Homo sapiens: one gene and its partners. The protein of the gene in region 1 purifies or fractionates together with the protein of each later gene. This does not show direct contact. Each region holds a gene or a part of one and is shown on either strand. Other genes may lie near its edges.

Region 1 (7,919 bases):
TACTAGGAAAGGATAATTTCTTGCTAACCCTCATGTAAACTGGATGACTGCAATTATTTTCGTAGTCGGTGGTTTTAAAAGTATATGCTGGTATCACTGTTTTGATTTTATTTCCTGAAAAAATTAATTGCCTTGAAACATATTTATTCCATGCGATACACTGAAGCCTCTCTTAACACTTTCAATCACAGCCTCTACACTCTGTCAAGTTGAACCTGTGGGAAGATGGTTTGAAGCTTTTGTTAAGAGGAGAAACAGAAATGCTTCTGCCTCTTTTCAGGAACTGGAGGATAAGAAAGAGTTATCCGAGGAATCAGAAGATGAAGAATTGCAGTTGGAAGAGTTTCCCATGCTGAAAACACTTGATCCCAAAGACTGGAAGGTATTTAATATCTGAATATTTTGTTCAGTCAGATGCTTTGTTAGACATAGACAATTTTCTTATGAGTTTTCCATTAATAAACATGTTTTAAGATGATTCAGCAAGATAACTATGATTTAGCATCTGTTTATTACTAAGTCTTGAGAGCATTAGCACTAGCCATGAGATACTGTCTCTGCTGGAGAAATCCAGGAAGAGTTCACAGAAAAGATAATGTTTGCACCGGTCTTAAAAGGACAGGCAGCAATTAGTGAAGCAGAGAAGTGAGAAAAGTATTCTGGGCAGAAGGAGTAAGATATACAAAGACACAAAGGAGTAAAAGAATATGTAGTGCCTCTTGAGGAATTGATAAGTCGTATAGGGTACATGCGGTATGGTGATGAGAAATCTAGTGTCTTTAAAAGGACACTAGACCAAACTCTGTTGTGTCCTTTTTATACCATGCTAAAGAAGGAATTAAAATTTATTTTTGGGACAGTAAGATACCATCAAAAGTTTCTTAGCTAATTTTAGAAAAGTAATTCCCTTGGCAGTACAGGAAATTGCTTGAAAGGGGGCAAGGGACTGGAGGGGAAGTGAATAGTTTACTGTTATAGGGCTAGTGCACTAAGGCAGACCTGTGACTGAATCCTTGAACTTACTATGTGGCTGGGTTTTGAGGAAGAGGGGTCAGATTTGCCTTTTTTGGAGGTAGCATTAACAGGCTTTGGTGACCCTGGCTGTGTGGCACAAGACAAAGAGAAGTATTCAGAGGTCCTTCCCAGCATTAGCGCTTGAGTGACCTGCTAGAGTGTGTGGTCAGTAACCAATGCTGGGATGAGGATAAGAATGTTTGTGGGAGGTGCTGTTTGTGTCCAAGTTTGACTATGTGAAGACTGAGGTTTTGGTACCATAGTGGTGAAGCTGTCTAGTAGATGGTTAGAAATTGGTCTATGACTCCAAAAAGAGGTTACAGCCAAAGACTTTTTGAAGTCATTGGCACATAGTGGTGGTTGCTGTGAGGAATTGAATGACAACAGCAAGGGACAAAAGTATAAACAAATAGATAATGCTTTAGTAGGTACTTGTATAATAGTTAAATGCGTATGCTGTGGAATTGGAGTGCCTGAATTCAAATCTGGTTCTGCCATTTGGTGCACTTCGACCTTGGGAAAGTTCCCAGATATGTGTGTACCTCATTTCCCTTGTTGCTACAGTGAGATTGTTAACAGCTCAAAGGTTTACCTTGAGGATTAATAAAAGGATGCTTATAAAGCACTTAAGTTAGTACTTGCTGCATGATAAATGCCAAACAAATAATGGATAATAAGAGTTCCTATGTCATTGGTTGTTTAGAGGACTAAATAAGCTAAAGCATATGTATAAAACATTTAGAAAAGTAAGCACTCAGAAAGTGTTAGCTGATTCTCCCACCACCTCATCCATTTTAAAAGAAAAAGACAACATTGGGGAGCATGGATATTTAAGGGGTAGGAAGAGGAGGAAAAACAGCAGAAGATACTAAGAAGGGTGACAGAAGTAGAAAGAAAACAAAGAAAAAGACACTTTGTTATTTGAAGAAATACTTCCTAAACATCAGGCAGCGTATTCTTCCAGAAACTAAGGGAGGAGCAAGAGGGAAAAAGAGGCAGGGTGCAGTGGCTCATGCCTGTAATCCCAGCACTTTGGGAGGCTGAGGCGGGCAGATCACCCGAGGTCAGGAGTTCGAGACCAGCCTGACCAACATGGTGAAACCCCATCTCTACTAAAAATACAAAATTAGCCAGGCGTGGTGGCACATGCCTGTAATCGCAGCTACTTGGGAGGCTGAGGCAGGAGAATCACTTCAACTCAGGAGGTGGAGGTTGCTGTGAGCCGAGATCATACAATTGCACTCCAGCCTGGGCAACAAGAGCAAAACTCTATCTCAAAAAAAGGGGCGTGGGAAGAGTCACCTGTGTCACTGCTTCAGAAAGAGGTCAATCACATAACATGAAAAATTATTTTAAAAAACACTGGACCGGGCATGGTGGCACATGCTTATAATCCCAGCTACTCAGGAGGCTGAAACAGGAGAATCGCTTGAACCTGGGAGGTGGAGATTGCGGTAAGCTGAGATCGTGCCACTGCACTCCAGCCTGGGCAACAAGAGTGAAACTCCATCTCAAAAAAAAAAAAAACCATTGGATTTGGCAAACTAAAAGTTTCGGTGTCCTCATTGAAAGCAGTTTGAGTAAAATGATCGGGAAGGCAAGAGATTACAGTGAATGAAGAGTGATTAGGAAGTGATGAAGTAGGATCAAAGTGTAAAGTACTCTTTCAAAGCTGGGTAGTAAAGAAAATGAGAGAAGATAGTAACTTCAGGAGAAGGCAGAGTCGGGAAAAGACAGAACTGGGGAGTGTTGAGATCTATAAGAGGGAGAAGGTCTTTGGTATAGAAAGAAGTAGATTGTATCAGAGTAAGGTAGCAGAGTTCATTCACTTGTTCAGTTTATTTTCATTCATCAAATATGGATCAAACACCATGTCAGATACTGTTCTAGGTGTCAAGGATACTGTACTGAACAAGACAGTATTACTGCTTACACACAGCTTATATTCCAGTGACATAATAAGTAAACAAGAACATGTAGCCATAAGTTCCATAGGATGGCCATAAGCTATCAACAGGTGCTAAGAGAAAAAAGGGGTCTTTGGTCAAGTAAGTTTGGAAAATGCTAGGTTTTACAGGTTTCTGTTTGTTTATTTTTTAAATCTAATTACAGGACTTCTCAGAGCCTTTCTTAGGCCTTTGTGCATACAAATCATCAAGGAGGCTGTATAATAGTCCACATTTACCTCTTTTTTAAATTTATTTTTTATTTTATTTTATTTTGAGACGGAGTCTCACTCTGTTGCCCAGGCTGGAGTGCAGTGGCGCAGTCTTGGCCCACTGCAACCTCCGCCTCCCAGGTTCAAGCAATTATCTTGCCTCAGCCTCCCGAGTAGCTGGGATTACAGGTGGGCGCCACCACGCCCGGCTAATTTTTGTATTTTTAGTAGAGACAGGGTTTCACCATGTTAGCCAGGCTGGTCTCAAACTCCTGACCTCATGATCCACCCACCTCAGCCTCCCAAAGCACTGGGATTACAGGCGTAAGCTGGCATGCCCAGCCTGTCTCTTCTTTTTTTTAAAGACAGGGTCTTGGCCGGGTGCAGTGGCTCACACCTGTAATCCCTTGGCCCTTTGGGAGGCCAAGGCAGGTATATCACCTGAGGTCAGGAGTTCGAGACCAGCCTGACCAACAAGGTGAAACCCTGTCTCTACTAAAAATACACAAATTAGCCAGGCGTGGTGGTGTGCACCTGTAATCCCAGCAACTTGGAAGGCTGAGGCAGGAGAATTGCTTGAACCCGGGAGGCGGAGGTTGCAGTGAGCCAAGATGGCACCACTGCACTCCAGCCTGGGCAACAGAGCAAGACTCCGTCTCAAAAAAATAAAATAAAATCTTAAAATCATTAAAAAAAAAAAAAAAAAGACAGGGTCTTGCTCTGTCGCCTATCCTGGAGTGCAGTGGCATGATCACAGCTCACTGCAGCCTCTACTTACTAGACTCAAGTAATCCTGCTACTTCTGCCTCCTGAGTAGCTGGAACTACAGGTGCACACCACCACACCCAGCTAATTTTTAAAAATTTTTTTGTAGAGACAGAGATCTTACTTTGTTGCCCAGGCTGGCCTCATATTCCTGGGCTCAAGCAATCCTCCACCTGGGCCTCCCAAAGTGCTAGGATTACAGGCATGAACCATGGCACCCAGCCTAATCCACATTTCTCAACCTTACCTGACCATAGACCCTGGTTTATACAGAACCTCTTACTGGACTCCTGATGAAATGTCACTTTGGGAAATGCTTATTAAGGTACCAGAACACAAGGGATGGAATATATTGGCTTCATTTCAAATTTGACTCCCTTTTGTGTTTTTTTTCCAGAACCAAGATCATTATGCAGTTCTTGGACTTGGCCATGTGAGATACAAGGCTACACAGAGACAGATCAAAGCAGCTCGTAAGTACTTAGTTATTTTGAAATAATCAAATATCTTGTATAGGAACAGGCTGGCTATGCTTTTTAAAAGATATACAGTATCATAGTCTGCAGCCATAACTACATTTAACAGCATGTGTTATATTGTCATAACAAGCAAAAAACCACGGTCTCCCCTGCCTTCAGAATCAGAAGAAAGCAATCCATTTTACATATAGACTTTCCCATTAGGGATAAGAAATTAGGATGGGTGTGTGTGTGTGGATACAAAATACTCCTCCAATGGCAAGCTTTTAAAAAATAATACTTCACCTCTCTTTAGAAGTATAGCAGCTGCACTTAGTGGATACTGCCTTTTTATTGTTTTTTGGTTTTTGGTTTTTTTTTTACGTTATTTTGTAATCTTAGGTCACACCTTTGTAGATATCACCCTGTCTTCTGTCCAAGAAAAGTTGTCTGATGTTTTATTGTTGTTTTCATTGACAAGGTTATAATTTGGCATGGGAGAGGGTAATGTTGGGACCCCAGTCTTCATATGCCTTATAAAACACCATCCCTTAATGCTCCTAAATGTCCTATGCTTTGCAATCCTGTGGACATAATTTCTTATACACGTGATCAGTTCAACTGATTAATAAAGTTTAGTGAAAGAGGTAAGAGGTGAAGGTGATCAGTTTTCTATCTTAGGAGAATGTTCTGCCCTCCACTCTAGAGAATGGATATTGAGGTCAGAGAGGGTAAGATTGTGGCCACATGGAAAAGGAGCAGGGAGTCAGGGCCTGTCAAGAAGAGGAAGTATTATATGTGGAGGAAGATGACTGAATAAGAATGCCTGTGGTAAAAATTATTAGTCAATACTTAGCATAGTAGATGAACTCAAAATCGTCCCCATTACTGCTTACATTTAGGAAAATCACAGGAAATATTTTTTAACAAAGTGAAGGAATTTATCAGATTATTTTAAACTGGATTTGTTTAAAGGCTGGCATGAGTCTAGACAAAGCATATGGTAATGCATGTGAATAGTTATTCCAGTATAAATAAATGCCAGAAAAGTCCATTTGCCACGTACAAGTGTTTGCAAAGTTTTACTATACGAAAGAATAGCATTGGCCGGGCGTGGTGGCTCACGCCTATAATCCCAACACTTTGGGAGGCCGAGACGGGTTGATCACCTGAGGTGAGGAATATGAGACCAGCCTGGCCAACGTGGAGAAACACCGTCTCTACTAAAAATACAAAAAAATTAGCTGGGTGTGGTGGTGGGCACCTGTATTCCCAGCTACTTGGGAGGCTGAGGCAGGAGAATTGCTTGAACCCAGGAGGCAGAGGTTGCAGTGAGCCGAGGTCGCACCATTGCGCTCCAGCCTGGGCAACAAGAGCGACACTCTGTTTCCGAAAAAATAGAATAGCATACAAATACCAAATATGTCTTAGTACAGATAAATTTGTTAATTAGAATTGATAATAGAACTGTGAGAATAGTTTGTGTTTTAAGGTGAAAGAATTCTTTCTCAGAAGATTAAAAATGTGCAATAAATTGTAAAAGAAGCATTCATATGCTTCTGTTAAATCCACTGTCTTTTTTTGAGACAGAATTTCGTACTTGTTGCGCAGGCTGGAGTGCAATGGCACCATCTTGGCTCACCACAACCTCCGCCTCCCAGGTTCAAGCGATTCTCCTGCCTCAGCCTCTTGAGTAGCTGGGATTAGAGGCATGTGCCACCACGCCCGGCTAATTTTGTATTTTTCATAGAGACGGGATTTCACCATGTTGGTCAGGCTGGTCTCGAACTCCCGACCTCAGGTGATCCACCCACATCGGCCTCCCAGAATGCTGGGATTACAGGCGTGAGCCACCGCACCCAGCCTAAATCCACTCTTTTTATTGGCCTTGTAGAAATTGATTTTTAGCCAGGCACAGTGGGTCACACCTGTAATCCCAACACTTTGGAAGACCAAGGCAGGCAGATTACTTGAGGCTGGAGTTCAATACTAGCCCGGCCAATGTGGTGAAACCCCATCTCTACTAAAAATACAAAAATTAGCCAGGTGCGGTGGCGCATGCCTGTAAGCCCAACTACTTGGGAGGCTGAGGCATGAGAATCGCTTGAACCTGGGAGGCGGAAGTTGCAGTGAGCGAAGATTGTACCACTGCAGTCCAACCTGAGCAACAGAGTGAGAGAGTGAGACTCTGTCTCATTAAAAAAAAAAAAAAGAAAGAAAGAAAGAAAAGAAATTCAGCTTTTGAATATGTATTCTCTAGCCAAAAATTTTGCAGCACCAGTGTAGAGATTGTTAACAATAAGGGTAATTCTAACTTACTCTCTACCACCCTTGTGGAATATTCCGTCAGTCTTTATTTAGAAAGAAACTGTCATTCTCTCACCTCTGTCACTGTAAAACACAGTTGCTACTCATTGCTTTCTGAAAATCTATCTAAAAGTTAAAATGCAAAGTTACTGTTTGCAAATCTATAATTATTAGCACAAACCTAATAAAAATGTAAATCTGGTACCATTTGATGTCCTTTGAATGCTTGCTTCATATTACAAGCAAAGTTTTATTTTTGTTGAGTATATTTTGAATGTCAGTAATGAAAATTAATTAAGTGTGAAGTAGGAGCCGGGTGCGGTGGCTCACACTTGTAATCCTAGCACTTTGGGAGGCTGGGGCAGGTGGATCACCTGAGGTCAGGAGTTCGAGACCAGCCTGGCCAACATGGCGAAACCCCGTCTCTACTAAAAATATAAAAATTAGGCGGGCATGGAGACGCATGCCTGTAATCCCAGCTACTTGGGCGGCTGCGGCACGAGAACCGCTTGAAACTGGGAGGCAGAGGTTGCAGCCAGCCGAGATTGCACCATTGCACTCCAGCCTGGGTGACAGAGGGAAACTGCCTCAAAAAATGCCCAAAAAAATACCAAAAATATTTGTCACTGTTTCTGAACCCTTGCAGTATATGTTGAAATAAATAATTTTATTATGCTCATGAAAAGATTTCTATAGGCCAAGCATGGTGGCTCATCCCTGTTAATCCTAGCACTGTGGGAGACTAAGGCTGGAGGATCACTTGAGCTCAGGAGTTCAAGACCAACCTGGACAACATAGCAAGACCTTGTCTCTCTTTTTTTTTTTTAATTAAAAAAATTTTTTTTCAAGATTTCTTTTCTTTTTTTTTTTAAGACGGAGTCTAACTGTTATCCAGGGTGGAGTGCAGTCGCGTGATCTTGGCTCACTGCAACCTCCATCTCCAGGGTTCAAGTGGTTCTCCTGCCTCATTCTTCTGCCTCAGCCTCCTAAGTAGCTGGGATTACAGGCACCTGCCAACATGTCTGACTAATTTTCGTATTTTTTAGTAGAGACTGGGTTTCACCACGTTGACCAGGCTGGTCTCGAACTCCTGAGTTCAAGTGATCCACCTGCCTCAGTCTCCCAAAGTGCTGGGATTACAGGCATGAGCCACCGTGCCCAGCCAAAAGATTTCTGCAAAAACGTTCACAACAGGCCGGGCACAGTGGCTCACACCT
Region 2 (7,033 bases), on another chromosome or scaffold:
CTGTAAGTGTAAATGGTGTGAGTGTGTGTGAGCATGACTGAGTAGGTATCAGTGTGAGTGTGAAGTGTGGGTGTGAATGGTGAGCATGTGTGAGGGTAAATATGTGTGAGTAGGTGTCTGTGGGTGTGAACTGTGGCTGTGAATGGTGAGCGTGTGTGAAGGTAAATCTGAGTGTGAGTGAGTAGGTGTCTGTGTGTGTGAACTGTAGGTGTGAATGGTGAGTGTGTGTCTGGAAGCCCAGAATCAGACTGTCGAGCTGGATCATTCAGACTCCATACATCCAGCCCCTTTATACAAACTGGGAGACTGAGGCTGGGCAGTGGTGGTGGGGAAGGGATCACACCCAGCGTTTGAAGGACAGCCCGGGTCAGAGCCCAGCCAGGAGCTCCTGACCCCCATCCTCCCATCCGCTGCTGCTGCAGGTGTGTCTGTGTCGGGAGCGCACTGTGTCCACCCCGCCTTGGTACAGCTAGGAGCATGACCTCCCCCACCCTGCACTTAGCTCACAGCCCACAACTCAACGGACATACTAGATGGCAGGGGCTGTGAGCCAGGCAGGGAGGGTGCTCTGGTAGGAGCCCTAGGGAGGGGTCTAGGGAGGCCGGCCAGGGAAGGAGCCAGCCATGGGGCCACCCCAGCAAGTCCCAGGTCCTGAGAACCCTCTGGGTATGTGTGGGCAGCAAAAAAGGCTATGAGGCTGAGTGCTCAGCTGGGGAGCTGCGGTCAGAGCCTTGGTAGGGGCCAGTGGCAAAGGCATTGGGAGACTTTACCCTACGTCTGGTGAGAAGCCATTAGAGACCTTCTGGCAGAGCCAGGACCCACCACTCAGACTTCTGTGTTGGGGCTGTGCGGACAGAACAGGAGGCTGGGTGGAAAGGGTAGAGAGGGTGGGGGCTCGGCAGCTGTGGGACCAGTTCTGGGGTAGATGGGGAGGAAGCCATGGGTTGGAAGAGAGTAGGGAAATCAGGGAGCAGTCCCTGTCTCTGGGCAGAATCACTGGCAAAAGTTTGGGAGGAGCAGGGTCTGTGTTGGCCACACCCAGGCTCCAGGTGAGGGTGGCAAGAGGAGCGGGATGCTGGGGTCTGCACGGGAGAGAGGCTGACCTCGGGCTAGGGAAATGAACTGCATCATCAGGGTACTGGTGGTGTTTGCAGCCCCAGGACTGAACAATCCCCTAGATAAGGAGGAGAGAGAGAGCCCAGCAGCCACAGAGCCCCTTCCAGATTCCGACCCCAGAAACCCCACTGCTCACAAGCCAGAGCCTCCTCCAGACTGGCCAGGCCCAGGGAAGGGCGCGACTCAGGTGCTGGGCACATGGTCTTGCCCTGGTCTCTGCTAGGCCCTGGCCACTTCCAGAAGCTCCTTTTCTCATATTTGGCCATTTTTTTTGGTTGAGGACCTGGGACCTTCCCCACCTACAGTTTCCTTGGTGGGGTAATGCAGAAGGGATGACCAGCAGTGTGGGGGTAAGAGGCACCCTGAAGGCTGCAAGACCCCAGCCTGAGTCCTGGTCTCCTGGCTAACCCCCTCCTCAAGCCTCAGTTGCCTCTACCATATCATGAGGGCAAGTGGAAGATCCCACTTAGTCTATGCCAGCTCCCAAAGTCTAGAATTAGTCTTCTGAGCCCTGCGCCACAGGCAGCCTCCCTCTTGACAAAAGCCCCGCTCCCCTCACAGGCTGAGGAGCCGGCCCCCAGCCCGTGTGCCCACCAAGGCTGGTGTGGGGTCTGAGCTGCATCCTCCGTGTCCTCCCCCCGGGACTGGACAGCACTGCCCTGCCCACAGGGCTCCAGCCCTGTGTTGACTGCTTCTCCCCTGCAGTCCCAGCCAGGTCCCCCGGGGCACCGTGGCTGCGAGCCTGGCCGCTCTCCTCAGTGCCCGGACTGCGGCTCTACTTTGTGAGTGGCTGTACTGGCTGCGGTGCCCAGCCCTCCTCTCTCGAATCTCCTCTCCTCAGATGTCATGAAGGAGGCCACACCTGGGTCCCGCCTTCCTCCGTGACCCTGTCCCTTTGTCTCCACTAGAGCATCCCCTTCCTCCAGCACAGATGACCCAGGAGTGTCCCTGGCCCAGCCTGTGGCTGCAGCCAGCTCCAGAGTGGCATGTCCAGCATGCCACTCCTCCCCCCTGCGGTGGCTGCACAAAAGGCCAAGCGATGGCCCTGTTGCCCATGGCTGGGACTCCTTCAGGGGTATCGCTTCTGCTCACCCTTTAACTTTTCAAAAGACCCAAGCTCAAGCCCCTTGTATTAGTCCATTCTCACAAAGCTATAAAGAACTACCTGAGACTGGGTAATTTACAAAGATAAGAGGTTTAATTGGCTCACGGTTCCGCAGCTGTACAGGAAGCACAGGGCATCAACTTCTTGGGAGGCCTCAGGGAGCTTTTACTCATGGCAAAAGGTGAAGTGGAGCAGGTGTCCTACATGGCAGGGGCGGGACCAAGAGAGGGAGTCAGGGGAGGTGCAACACGCTTTCAAACAACCAGATCTCATGATAGCTCACCATCATGAGGACATCACCGAGGGAATGGTGCTAAACCATTAGAATCCACTCCCATGATCTGATCACCTCCCACCAGGACCCACCTCCAACACTGAGGATTAAAACTGAACCTAAAATTTGGGTGGGAACACAGATCCAAATCATATCACCTGCTCTGGGTCATGGCCGGGCTGCCTCCCCTCCACCTGGTTCCAGGGCCGGCTCTTTTGGGTTTCCTGCTCCCATCCCATCTCTGTACACTGCGGTCACTCCAGCTGTGGCCACCATGTTCCTCTCCCCAGAGTCCCCTCTGCACATCCTCAGAAGGCTCCTGGTCCTGAGCACCCTGATCAGTGGGCCCAGCACACACAGCTGGCTGTTCCTCTCACGTCCTCCATGCAGCCAGCCTGGCCTGGAAACAGCTGTGCAGTTTCGGCAGGCTCAGCTGGGTGGTGCTTTCAGAAACCCATCCCCGTTCTCTGTCAGGAAATTCACATGGTCCTTCTTCAAGAAGGTGGAGGCCTCAGGCCCTCAACGTTGTCCTGTGCCCTGGAGACAGTCCACTCAGCCAGTCCTTCCTGGGAAAGGAGCCCATCCTCCTCTGCAGGGACCTGGGCTGCAATCTCTCTTCTCACTTTTCTCAGGGTACCTGGTGCTCTGGGGGGCGAAGGCTGTTTCCTGGCTCCATGCCCCTGCCAGCCTCCCCCCTAAAAAACCCATCCAGGCTCACCGTTTCCTCCTAGACATAATTTCTTCCTCTCTGGGGTTTATTCCCTTGACAGGGTGACAAAATGGGGGGCGTGTGTGTGTGTGAAAGGGGTGAGCTGGAGAAGAGGGGAGGTGCTGCTAGCCCTCACCCAGAGAAGCCTGCTTGGGCCCAAGGCCACAAATGCACCAACCCACCCCCTTTTCAGGGCCTTTTACTCTGTCCACCTGTAAATGTTCCTGTCTCTCACTCTGGGAACCCCAATTCGCCAGCGTCCTGTCCCCCCTCACCCCTCCATCGCTTTTCTATGCTGGGCCTCTGGAGACTGTCTCCTGCCTGCAACCCTGCCACCCCCCAGCCCCAGCCCCACTCCTGTGCCCTACATCACCTACCCCCAAAGGGATCCCCTCTCCTACCCGAGCATCTTACCCTGGCCTCAGCTTCCCCAAGTGGAGGCTGCAACGGCTTCAACAAAAACTGTCCTGTGCCTTCTCTGCACCCCCAATACTGGAATCAGCAGAGATCGGGCCGCCAGCCTTGCACAAGCCCCCCCGGGGAGGGTGGGGCCCGGGACCCTCTCCAGGACATGGTCTCCTTTGCTGTGTTCCCGCCATCATTTCCCTGTGCACGGGAGAGGGGGAGGGGTGCACCCAGGAACTAAGAGCGAATCCCTTCCCCATCCTCTCACAGGAATTCCTCTGGGTGTCACAGCCTCACCCCCGCCCACCCTGTCCCACCCTGGAGCCCCCATTTGGCTTTGGGGGGACCGGCGGCAGCTACTTGTGGATTACAAAATGAGGCCCTGGGAACATCAGCGGCAACAGGGTGGGGGGAGCGGCGAGGCAGTGTCCCTAGAGAGGTCCTGCCGTAGTCCTCCATTCCCCGGGTTGTGCCTAGGCTCCCAGAGGCACAACCAGAACCCGGGGTGCAGCTGGAGAGTGCCTCCCATCCGCCATCCCCTTTGGATGGGGCGGAAAACCCCCGAGGATGTCCTAGCGCAGTTCACGTTGCCCCAGCCGACCACGTGAGGGCGCGCCCTGTGTTAGTTTGGACAAATTAAAGCTCCTCTTGCGGGCAGGCCTGGAGCCCCCCGGGCCGGGACAAGGCTCGGGTGCCCGTGGCGTTCTCTGGGTTGCCGGCCGCCAAGCTCCCGGCCGTGGGGCCTCCTCTGGGGCCCGCGCTATTGGCCTCCAAACGAGGTGCCCCCCTCCTCTCGCGCTCCCGCAGCCTAGGGTGCACCTCTCCGTTCGCCTTTGCTGAGCCCTTCCAGGACGCAAGTCGCCTCTCCACTGCGCCGGGAGCTCAGGCCCTGTCCGGGGCGCCCCGCTGCGGGCGCGGCGGCGCTGGAGAGGCGCGGTCCGAGAAGCCAGCGGCCGGAGAAGGGGCTCCAAGAAGCACAAGTTGGCGCTGGCCCCGGACCAGGCTGTTGTTGTTCTCAACGTGGTCCGCCATGAAGCTATAAAAAGCCGAGAGAAGCGCCCTCCCGCCAGAGCGCAGCGCGCACGCCCAGCGAGTTCCAGAGGCGCCAGTGGAAGCTGCGGCGGCGGTGTCTCGCGTTCGGCGGGATTTCTCTTCGCTCCGGCTCGGCCTAGGTCTACGTCCCCAGCTCCAGCCGCCGGCTCGGACTCGGTCTCTGACCCCCAACTCGGTCCCCTAGTCCGGCCCCGGCTCCGGGCCCCCCAACCCTCGCTCCGGCCCGGCCCGGCCCCCACCCCAGCCCTGCCGCCCGGCCCCAGGCCCGGCCGCGGCCGCTCCCGCCTGGAGCCGCCGCGCGCCCCCAGCCCCCCTGCACCCCCTCGGCCCCTCGCCTTCCTCTTCCCGGCGCGGCCCCCCGGCTTCCGCGCGCCGCCCGCCACCAATCCTCTTGCTACCATGTCCGTGGAGCTCGAGGAGGCCCTGCCAGTGACGACCGCCGAGGGAATGGCCAAGAAGGTGACCAAGGCTGGCGGCTCGGCGGCGTTGTCCCCATCTAAGAAGAGGAAGAATAGCAAGAAGAAGAACCAGCCGGGCAAGTACAGCCAGCTGGTGGTGGAGACCATCCGTAGGCTGGGCGAGCGCAACGGCTCGTCGCTGGCCAAGATCTACACCGAGGCCAAGAAGGTTCCGTGGTTCGACCAGCAGAATGGGCGCACCTACCTCAAGTACTCGATCAAGGCGCTGGTGCAGAACGACACGCTTCTGCAGGTGAAGGGCACCGGCGCCAACGGTTCCTTCAAGCTCAACCGCAAGAAGCTGGAGGGCGGCGGGGAGCGGCGCGGAGCCCCGGCGGCCGCCACCGCCCCGGCCCCCACCGCGCACAAAGCGAAGAAGGCAGCCCCGGGCGCGGCCGGCTCCCGGCGCGCGGACAAGAAGCCCGCCAGGGGCCAGAAGCCGGAGCAGCGCTCGCACAAGAAGGGCGCTGGCGCCAAGAAGGACAAAGGCGGCAAGGCCAAGAAGACGGCGGCCGCCGGGGGCAAGAAGGTGAAGAAGGCGGCCAAGCCCAGCGTCCCCAAAGTGCCCAAGGGCCGCAAGTGAGCGTGTCGGCCGGTCAGAGCGGCCGGCGTGGGCTTTTCGGTGTTTTTGTTTTTCTACCCCAAGTGACGTAGATTTTGTACGGCTCACGCCGGCCGGGGCCGCGAGGCCTGGTCTGAGCCTCAGGGAGGGGCCCCGGGTCCTCTCAGTCTTTCCCCTCCCCCAACGATGTAGCGTTTTTCGTTGTTTGCTTTAGGTTTTTGAAACAGCCCCGGCGACGCCTCTATTGGCTCTCGGCCTTGGCAACGGCCGTCGTCATGGTTACTGGCCCCTAGGCGCCGATGGCCGAGGCCGCGCCTGCCCACCGGGCGGGGTCGCTGGTTGGCCGGGCCCAGGCGCGCGGGGACGCGGAGGCCGCGCATCCTTTCCCAGCTCCCCACCCTCCTTGCCTTTGGGTGCGCGACAAACAATCGCTCCGGGCTCAGGGCTGCGCGGCTCTTCCCTTCATTCCATGGGCCTTTTTTTGGGCACAATAAAGCGTTTAAACCTTTCAGCCTCTCTCGTTTAATCTGAGTGGAATAGGGATGGGCGCCTTCGGCACGCGGGGTTGGATGGCGGGCCCCTCGGGTCCTTATACCCCAGATCTGTTGGCCAGGGTAGGCCTGGAGCCAGGGGCCTTCAGCAAGGGGTGGGAATTGCTGGCTTGGGACGAACTTAAAGTACCTGGGACAGGGAGATAGACAGGATCGGTCCCTTAGGAGGGATGGATCTATCTGCCCCCACAGGGGGTCCATCGGCCATTGCGGGGAGCGGGATGGGGGAGGGGAGAGGAGGGGGGATTAATGGGTTTTCAGAGTTAATGGTCAGGGACCTAAACTTGGCCTCCAGAGAGGTAGTTCTTACAAAGTCACACCAGACTGGCCTGTAAACTTAGTCATTCTGACTCCAGCGAGGGTTAGAGTGAGATGTGACCAGGACGAAGTGTGGTGGCCAGAGAGTGGAGTTCCTGACCACAATCCAACGTGTGGTCTCAGAAGGGTATTTGCTGTCTCTGAGCCTATTGGTTAAGCTAGAGTGCAAACGGGACCCAAAGGATTGCTGGGAAAATTAGTAGGAGCAGAAGGATCTCCAGCCCTGGGACATTCTGGTATCCAGCATGTGGGATAGTTGTCTGTCCAGTTGGGCAATAGGTCAAGGTCTATTCTAACAGATGTCCCTAAAAATGGACAACTGCAAAACAGGCCCCCAAGGGCAGTGGAAACAGGGAAGCTTCTGAAACAGTGGATATATACTCATACCAGCGTGAGTGACTGGAGTTAGGTGAGAATGCAGGAGAGCTCGTTTTACCCTCTGTGTAAGAAATTGCAGAAACTACAGGTGGAGGCAGGACCTC
Region 3 (7,919 bases), on another chromosome or scaffold:
ACCTTCATTTGGTTTTCGGATATTAAATTCTACTTTTGCCCGGTCCTTATTTTGAATAGCCTTCCACTCATCCAAAGTCATCTCTTTTGGACCCTCCTCTTTTACCTCTTCAACTTCATTCTCCCTGTGAAAAGGTTTTCAAGTTTTATACCTGGTAGAGAGCTGATATTACATAAAAGTATTTTAAATTTATGATTTTAATTGAGAAAATTAACCTTGTAATCTTTTAGAGAAAGATTATTCAAGGATGAGGGTACCCTAGTTTCCTATGTAACTAAGCAACTTGGTAGAGACCAGGAATTCAGTGTTTGCTAATTAGAGACAAGTAAGGAATATGGAATTCATACTTATGAACTCTTAAATGATCATTTATCAGTAATACAATCTAGAACTGGCTTTACGAATACTAAAATACACATTTCTTAAAAACACTACCTTGTTTAAAAACTACCCTCTTATGTAAAATCCTCAGCCTATCTTCTCCTAAACCACATTTTTAATTTCCATAATTCCCACAATATGTAACTCTTAATAACATACAAGAAGGTAATCCTCTAGGATGTCTGTCAGCAACCAGGGTTCAAATTTTGGAATATAAAAGAACTGTTCCTCTATGCTTTGTTTCAGCAACTAGCACTTAGAGCAAATCAAAACAATAGCCGTGTTTCTACAAATCCTAAAATCCTTATACTCCAATTTTCAAACCAACCTGTATATGGAAAGGAGGCCATGGATTCACTACTAATAGAACTATCCACAAACACACACTGGTTTCATTATTTAATACTAAACCATTTATTTCCAAATATAATTCTCAGGTCTTAACTATAGAATATGATCCTTTCCTCTTTTTACAGAAACAAAGCACAGGCCTAAGGATCCATTATTTTAGTATAATCTCAATCTGCAATTGTCACCAAACAAGTCATTTGCTATTTGGGGAGCCCTGCTTCTTTCCAAAGATAGCAGGTGATTCAGTTAGCCTTAGAGCTCAAATATCTCCCTGGATGCTGCCCTTTACTGTTTGACAAATGCTATCTTAAAAGTTCCTCCAGTTACATCTATGCTGCAAAAAAAAAACAAAAAACTTCCTAGAGCAAGTTTATATTGAATTGACAGGATCTTGGGATCTTGGGTACTGAGTCCACCTAGTCATTTTACAGATGAGAAATCTAAGAATATAAAAAAAGTCCTGCTTACCCATATGTTATGACACAGCCAGGAATAGAACTTAGCATACCTTTTATCATATCATGGAGGCATGACACCTACCTTTCAGGAATTACTGCAAGGATTAAATAAAAACCAAACAGAAGCTCTGGAAGCTATATATAAGTTAGTTCATCAAAGTCAGCCAATGTTGTGTTTCTTAAATTTATACTTCCATATGCTATGCCCAGATTCTCCCCTAGTCTGGAATAAGATTACAGACAGTTCTAATGTGATGGATAATTATTTTCTTTAAACCAAACACCCTCAGTTTCGCTCCTGGGCACTGAGCTAAGGATTTGCTACCAATAGCCTATCAATACATTAGTACCTTTTGGTAAACAGTTATAATCTTTGCATATCACTGAGTGATTGAACATGGGCTCTATTAAACAGTTGTGGTTGGACACGGTGGCTCACACCTGTAATCCCAGCATTTTGGGAGGCCAAGGCGGGAGGATCACTTGAGGCCAGGAGTTCAAGACCAGCCTGGCCAACATGGTGTAACCATGTCTCTACTGAAAATACAAAAATTAGCCAGGCATGGTGGAGCATGCCTGTAGTCCCAGTACTCGGGAGGCTGAGGCAGGAGAATCGCTTGAACTTCAGAATGGCCAAAATCGCGCCACTGCACTCTAGCATGGGAGACAGGAGACTGTGTCTCAAAGAAACAAAAAAAAGTTGTGTTGACCACTATGAGAAACTTAACGTTGCATAGGGTTCATTTGTTAAGGCACCAATCACAACTTCATTGTTTATCATGCAAAATTATGATTCCATTATAGTTTTGCATAAATTTTTATTACCAAGTTCAAAACATCACCCAATACCATGTATTTTTATCTACTCCCTCCAATAGTATATCATTTTTCCTTATCCCAACAAATCCACGGAATATGATATTCCCATCATTAACAGTGCTCACCATAAGAGCAAATTCTTTCTGAAGAAAAGAAAAAGTTTAAGGTGCGGCAGCTCACGCCTGTAATCCCAGCACTTTGGGAGGCCAAGGAGGGCAGATCACCTGAGGTCAGAGTTCGAGATCAGCCTGACCAACATGGAGAAACCCATCTCTACTAAAAATACAAAATTAGCCGGGCGTGGTGGCACATGCCTGTAATCCCAGCTACTCAGGAGCTGAGGCAGGAGAATTGCTTGAACCCTGGAGGCAGAGGTTGCAGTGAGCCGAGATCACGCCATTGCACTCCAGCACAGGCAACAAGAGCAAAACTCCATCTCAAAAAAAAAAAAGAAAAAAGAAAAAGTTTAGAAAACATCTGCCCCTCCCACCCCCCAACTAACTTGAATATGCTTCTGGTTAGGAATCACTGTCCTAAATAACCTGTAATCCAAGACTTTAAACCACAATACTGTAACAAATAACTGGCAAAGTAAACATGATTTTAGGTCAGGCGTGGTGGCTCATGCCCGTAATCCCAGCACTTTGGAAGGCCAAGGCGGATGCATCACCTGAGGTCAGGAGTTCGAGACCAGCCTGGCCAACATGGTGAAATCCTGTCTCTACTAAAAATACAAAAAATTAGCTGGGCGTGGTGATGCATGCCTGTAATCCCAGTTACTCGGGAGGGTGAGGCAGGAGAATCGTTTGAACCCAGGGGGCGGAGGTTGCAGTGAGCCAAGATAGCGCCACTGTTACTTCAGCCTGGGCAACAGAGCGAGAATGTCTCCAAACAAAACAAAACAAAACAAAACAAAACAAAACAAAACAAAACACCATGTAATTTTAAAAGCTAGTGAAGGGCTGGGTGTGGTGGCTCACACCTGTAATCCCAGCACTTTGGGAGGCCAAGGAGGGTGGATCACCGAGGTCAGGAGTTCGAGACCAGCCTGGCCAGCTGGTCTAAAAAATATAAAAAATTAGCCAGGCATGGTGGCGGGTGCCTGTAATCCCAGCTACTCCAGAGGCTGAGGCAGGAGAATCGCGTGAACCCGGGAGGCGGAGGTTGCAGTGAGCCGACAGTGCCACTACACTCCAGCCTAAGCAACAAGAGTGAACTCCATCTCACACACACAAAAAAAAAAGTTAGTGAAGGGCTGGGCAAGGTGGCTCACGCCTGTAATCCCAGCACTTTGGGAGGCCAAGGTGGGTGGCTTGCCTGAGCTCAGGAGTTGAAGACCAGCCTGGGCAAAATGGTGAAACCCTGTCTCTACTAAAAATACAAAAATTAGCCGGGCCTGGTGGCAGGCACCTATAGTCCCAGCTACTTAGGAGGCTGACGTGGAAGGATCATTTGAGCCCAGGAGGCGGAGGGTGCAGTGAGCCAAGATCACTCCACTGCACTCCAGCCTCGGCAACAGAATGAAATCTTGTCTCAAAAAAAGAAAAAAAAAAAAAAAGATAGTGAATAACATACTCTGATCTTTGCTCTCTTCATACATTTAAAAACAGGCCAGTAATGCTATGTTCCAAATTCTACATTGGAAATAACTTCAAGATAGAACTAATGTTAAAATGGCCACATTTTCTAGTTTTAACTATCTCAAAGTAAAATTTGTACAGTTGTATGACAATGGTAAAATGACTAATCAAACAGAAATAACCACATTAAAATATTCTATTTTTCAAAGCGTTAGAGTCAAATATATACACATAAACCACTCTTTTAAGGGCTGGGTGCAGTGGCTCATGCCTGTAATCCCAGCACTTTGGGAGGCCAAGGCAGGAGGAACGCTTGAGCCCAGGAATTGGAGACCTGCCTAGGCAATATAGTGAGACCCTGTCTCTATTAAAAAAAGAAAAAAAAAGCATTCTTTCAAATACTCTTTGAGGGATGAGGGTACAGTAAGTCTCCCTTGTCAAAAACAAAAAGCCATCAAGTAACAGCATTAAATCTATGGGTTATCTTATTGGTAAAACTCCAGTGCTTTCAATTCTGGGTCATTACTATTACACGCAATACCACTTACTTATTTTCAGTGTCTGCCACTGGATGATGTTCTTCACCTTCAGGTGTTTCCTCAGTCACATTTGATTGATCCAAGTCACTGTAATTATAAGATATTTGTTTCTGAATGTATTTGGGGGACTCTCTAAGGAAAGAAAGAAAAAGAAAGGCATCTAGGTCCATTTACATGTAGCTGAAAAGTTCTTCATACAAAAATACCATAAGCTCTCACATTCTCTAACTCCTTTCTTACTAAATATACTCCCCAGAAGACGTCGAAAAGTAAACAATATAAACTAGTTAGTTCATATACTTCATACTTAAAAAGTAACAGAACAAGGCAGTTAATTATAAAATGAAGCTTTACTAGCTTATCAAATTTTGTAATGACAACAAAGTCAAAAGCTAGAATAGGAACTATTAAGGACACTAAGATAATCAGAATACCCAAATAACCTTATTGTGGGGTTTCAGGAAAAGCTACAAATACATATGGGGGGGAAAAAATGAGTAACAAATATATCGAAATATTAAAAAACCGGTCATTCAATATACTATAACCCAAACCCATCCCATAAGACATTATCTTGTAATATAGTAACTCTCAGAAGAGAGCATTCATTCTTATCTCAGAGACAAGTAAAATTTGACAGAGGTATGGATTAACCTCTAGTTAGGTATAGAATTTTTAAGAAAATCAGAATACCAACGTTAATTCGTCTTTGACAGTTCCCCAGTTGTGAGATCCGCTACCTCCACGTTTGTCCTCGTGCTTCAGGCCACTGTAATGTGAAAAAGAACTAACAAAACTGAGTTAACATAATACTCTTTAGTTCTAGAAATTCAAAGTTTGTTTATTAAATAGATTAAAATATTAAAGTAAAATAAAAACCAGTAAGACTTACGATCTATCACTTCCACTATGCCTATCAAATTCACGTTTGCCACGAGAATCAAATCCATCTCCTCGGCCCATTCCACGTCCACGGCCCCCTCGACCTCTTCCAAGACCACCACGACCTCGAATAGGTCGGTCAATAATCGGTCTATAATATAAACAAATAAATTATACTTCCATGGTTTCCAGAAGAAATGAGGAAAATTCATCCAAAAGATCAAAAATACAGAACATGTTTACTGGCTCAAAAACCAATAGTTAAATACATACACTTCAGAAAATTCAAAATAGTCTGTTTCTAAACACAAAGGAAACCAGAACAAGACAGCCTCCCAAAACAAGAAAACTATTTTAGCACTCTAAAGCATTACTACCAGTGCATATACTTTTCCACTGCTATTCATTGCACATATAATCCAGTCCATCACTATTTACCAATACACTTAAAAATTAAACACATCTAACTTGCATAAGTAATTTATTTGCTATAAACAATAAACCAACAGTATTTTCCTTCAACTAACAGTATTTTCCTTTTAACTCTGTATCTGGAGAGAGAAAGAAAAAGAAATTGGTTATCAATTCAACAAAGTGTTTCCATTACAAGAGACCTAAGTTTGAACTGTTACCCAAAGATCTAAAGCTTAACAATGCACACATACAGATGTTTCTGTGAAAAATTAATAGAAACAATTAGCCAGACTGCTACCTGGCAATTATGCCCAATTTATAGCTTAACATTAAAATGTGACTCTATAAAGTAACAAAATATGAAGACTTCTTTGGTTTACGCCTGTAATCCCAATATTGCAGGAGGACAGCTTGAGCACAGGAGCTCAAGACCAGCCAATGCAATATATATAGTGAGACCTCAGCTCTACAAAAAAAATTAGCAGTGTGGTGGCGTGACCTTGTAGTCCGAGCTACTCAAGAGGAGACTGAGATGAGAGGATCATTTGAGCCCAGGAAGCAGAGGCTGCAGTGAGCCAAGCTTGTACCACTGCACTCCAGCCTACATGTTAGACCAAGACCCTGGCTCAAAAACAAGAAACAACTTACCTATCAACTGAAAATTCGCCTCCTTCACCCTTTTCTTCAAGTGGCTTTTCGAATCTTCGTTCACGAGGTGGTCGCCTTTCTGGTCTTCTATCAATTATTTTCCCTTCACCCTGAAGTTGTTGATCAGGTCTTCTTCCAACTCGTCTTATTCCTAAAACGATAAGATAACCTGCATAAGCAAATTATTTTTGCAATCCAAAAACTTTAGGCCTGGACTGTCAAAAGCTGCTTCTCTTCCAATCCACTACCATTTCCTGTTGGAAAAAAGCAAACACTGGGCAACTCTAATGTGTAACAAAGTACCTTAGGAAAACTGCCATTTAAAGACAATAAACCTTCCAATCCATACCACCGACTAAATACATAAATAAATAAAATAAAAACAATAAACTTATTTTAAACTTCTATTTAAGTTTGCCAAGTTCTCCCCCTCAAAAGCATTTTCTATAACTGACTTGGAAATCATTTGGGCAACCATTATTCCCGTCACTTTCCAAGATAGTCTCTTAATAAAAACTTTTAAATTTAAAAAATTTTAGGCAAGCAATACATTTTGGCTTTTAAAATACCAAAGAAAATACCAGCAGCCATTCATAAATAACCAAGCAAATCAACACACTCACTAGATATGGCCCCTCACAAAAGTGAGGGCCGCACTATGTTATTCTATCTAATCTGAAAAAAAAATGCAATTAAGACTCATAATTCTATAAAATTACAAATCTGAAAGGAAAATATGGCATTTAGGATTATTAGAGAACATCACTTCAGTTTAAAACAGCCATTTAACCAGAAAAAGTGTCATCTTTTGGTCTTCTTAGCTACAGGCACACAAAAAGGGCCATCTTCCCCTATTAAAGTTTAAAATTTTATAGCATGTAAGTGTATATATGTTTGTACACACTCCCACATCCCTAAGTACTTCCAAGTTAGGAAACAGTTACTTATTATGCATGGAGAGAGTCCTCTAAAAAATTTGCCCTAACAACTATCTTTATTTTCAAAGAATCTTTAAAAACCAAATACACACACGTTAAGACCGCTTTTAAGCAACATGTAAGAAATAAGAAAACTTGTGACACTAAGTGATAGCTGAAGCATTTACTAATTTCCCCCTTTACTACTTTTTTCCTGTAATGTCTGAAACCCCACAAAGGCAACCAATTTAAATTATTGGTGCCCATAAGGATCAACAGATTGATGGTTAAATTAATGACTTTAAGATTGTTGGTATGCTCTAATTCCCAATTTCTGACAAAGTCATAAAGCAGCTGAGGAATTGGTTTTACAAGATTTTAAGCTGCTTCACTTTGGTTCTTTCTAAGAAAGTAGAACACCATCAAGACACACCCAGTTGTTCTGCTGCCTGTTAACTGGAGCCAAACAGTAACTATCAATCTCTTCAATAGAATTTTGAAGTTCATTCCCTGTAAATACTCAAGATAGACTACAAATATTAGACCTTACACCAAGGTATTTAAATAAATGTCATCAGTAATAAAGTGCACTGGGGTGGAGTTATGGAACCAGTCCTTGCAATAATATCCAAGCCAAACACACCCAAGTGAACAATAGTTGGCGTCCCCACCCAATATCAAGTTTACAGAATCTTAAAAACGTATTAAACCTACCTAATGAAAAAGACTGACATTTAAAAATGCAAGCTTCTTTTGATATACTTATCTATAACTTGCAAGCTCACTAACTGCACTAGTTTCAAGGCATTCATTCTTTTTTAGAAAATCCCTGGTCTACACTCTCAATGACATTCTGCTGTCAATTCTCAAGTTCTTCAAATGGGCAAGAGAATGTACAAAATTAATTCATAAAACATAAACATTAAATAT

What was found.
Region 2: the proteins of DNAJC2 (region 1) and H1-10 purify together in Homo sapiens (affinity purification with mass spectrometry; 2 studies listed by BioGRID and IntAct, with this or other methods). This does not show direct contact.
Region 3: the proteins of DNAJC2 (region 1) and SERBP1 purify together in Homo sapiens (affinity purification with mass spectrometry; 2 studies listed by BioGRID and IntAct, with this or other methods). This does not show direct contact.

Annotation. Positions count from the first base shown.
Region 1 is NC_000007.14:103,334,227-103,342,145, reverse strand, and holds part of DNAJC2 (dnaJ homolog subfamily C member 2), read left to right. Parts: intron 1-191; coding exon 192-382; intron 383-4,334; coding exon 4,335-4,410; intron 4,411-7,919. UniProt on the Homo sapiens protein: Acts both as a chaperone in the cytosol and as a chromatin regulator in the nucleus.
Region 2 is NC_000003.12:129,313,931-129,320,963, reverse strand, and holds H1-10 (histone H1.10), read left to right. Parts: upstream 1-4,677; 5' UTR 4,678-5,061; coding exon 5,062-5,703; 3' UTR 5,704-6,193; downstream 6,194-7,033.
Region 3 is NC_000001.11:67,420,063-67,427,981, forward strand, and holds part of SERBP1 (SERPINE1 mRNA-binding protein 1), read right to left. Parts: intron 6,224-7,919; coding exon 6,073-6,223; intron 5,162-6,072; coding exon 5,021-5,161; intron 4,916-5,020; coding exon 4,826-4,915; intron 4,261-4,825; coding exon of another isoform or gene 4,216-4,260; coding exon 4,138-4,215; intron 125-4,137; coding exon 1-124. UniProt on the Homo sapiens protein: Ribosome-binding protein that promotes ribosome hibernation, a process during which ribosomes are stabilized in an inactive state and preserved from proteasomal degradation.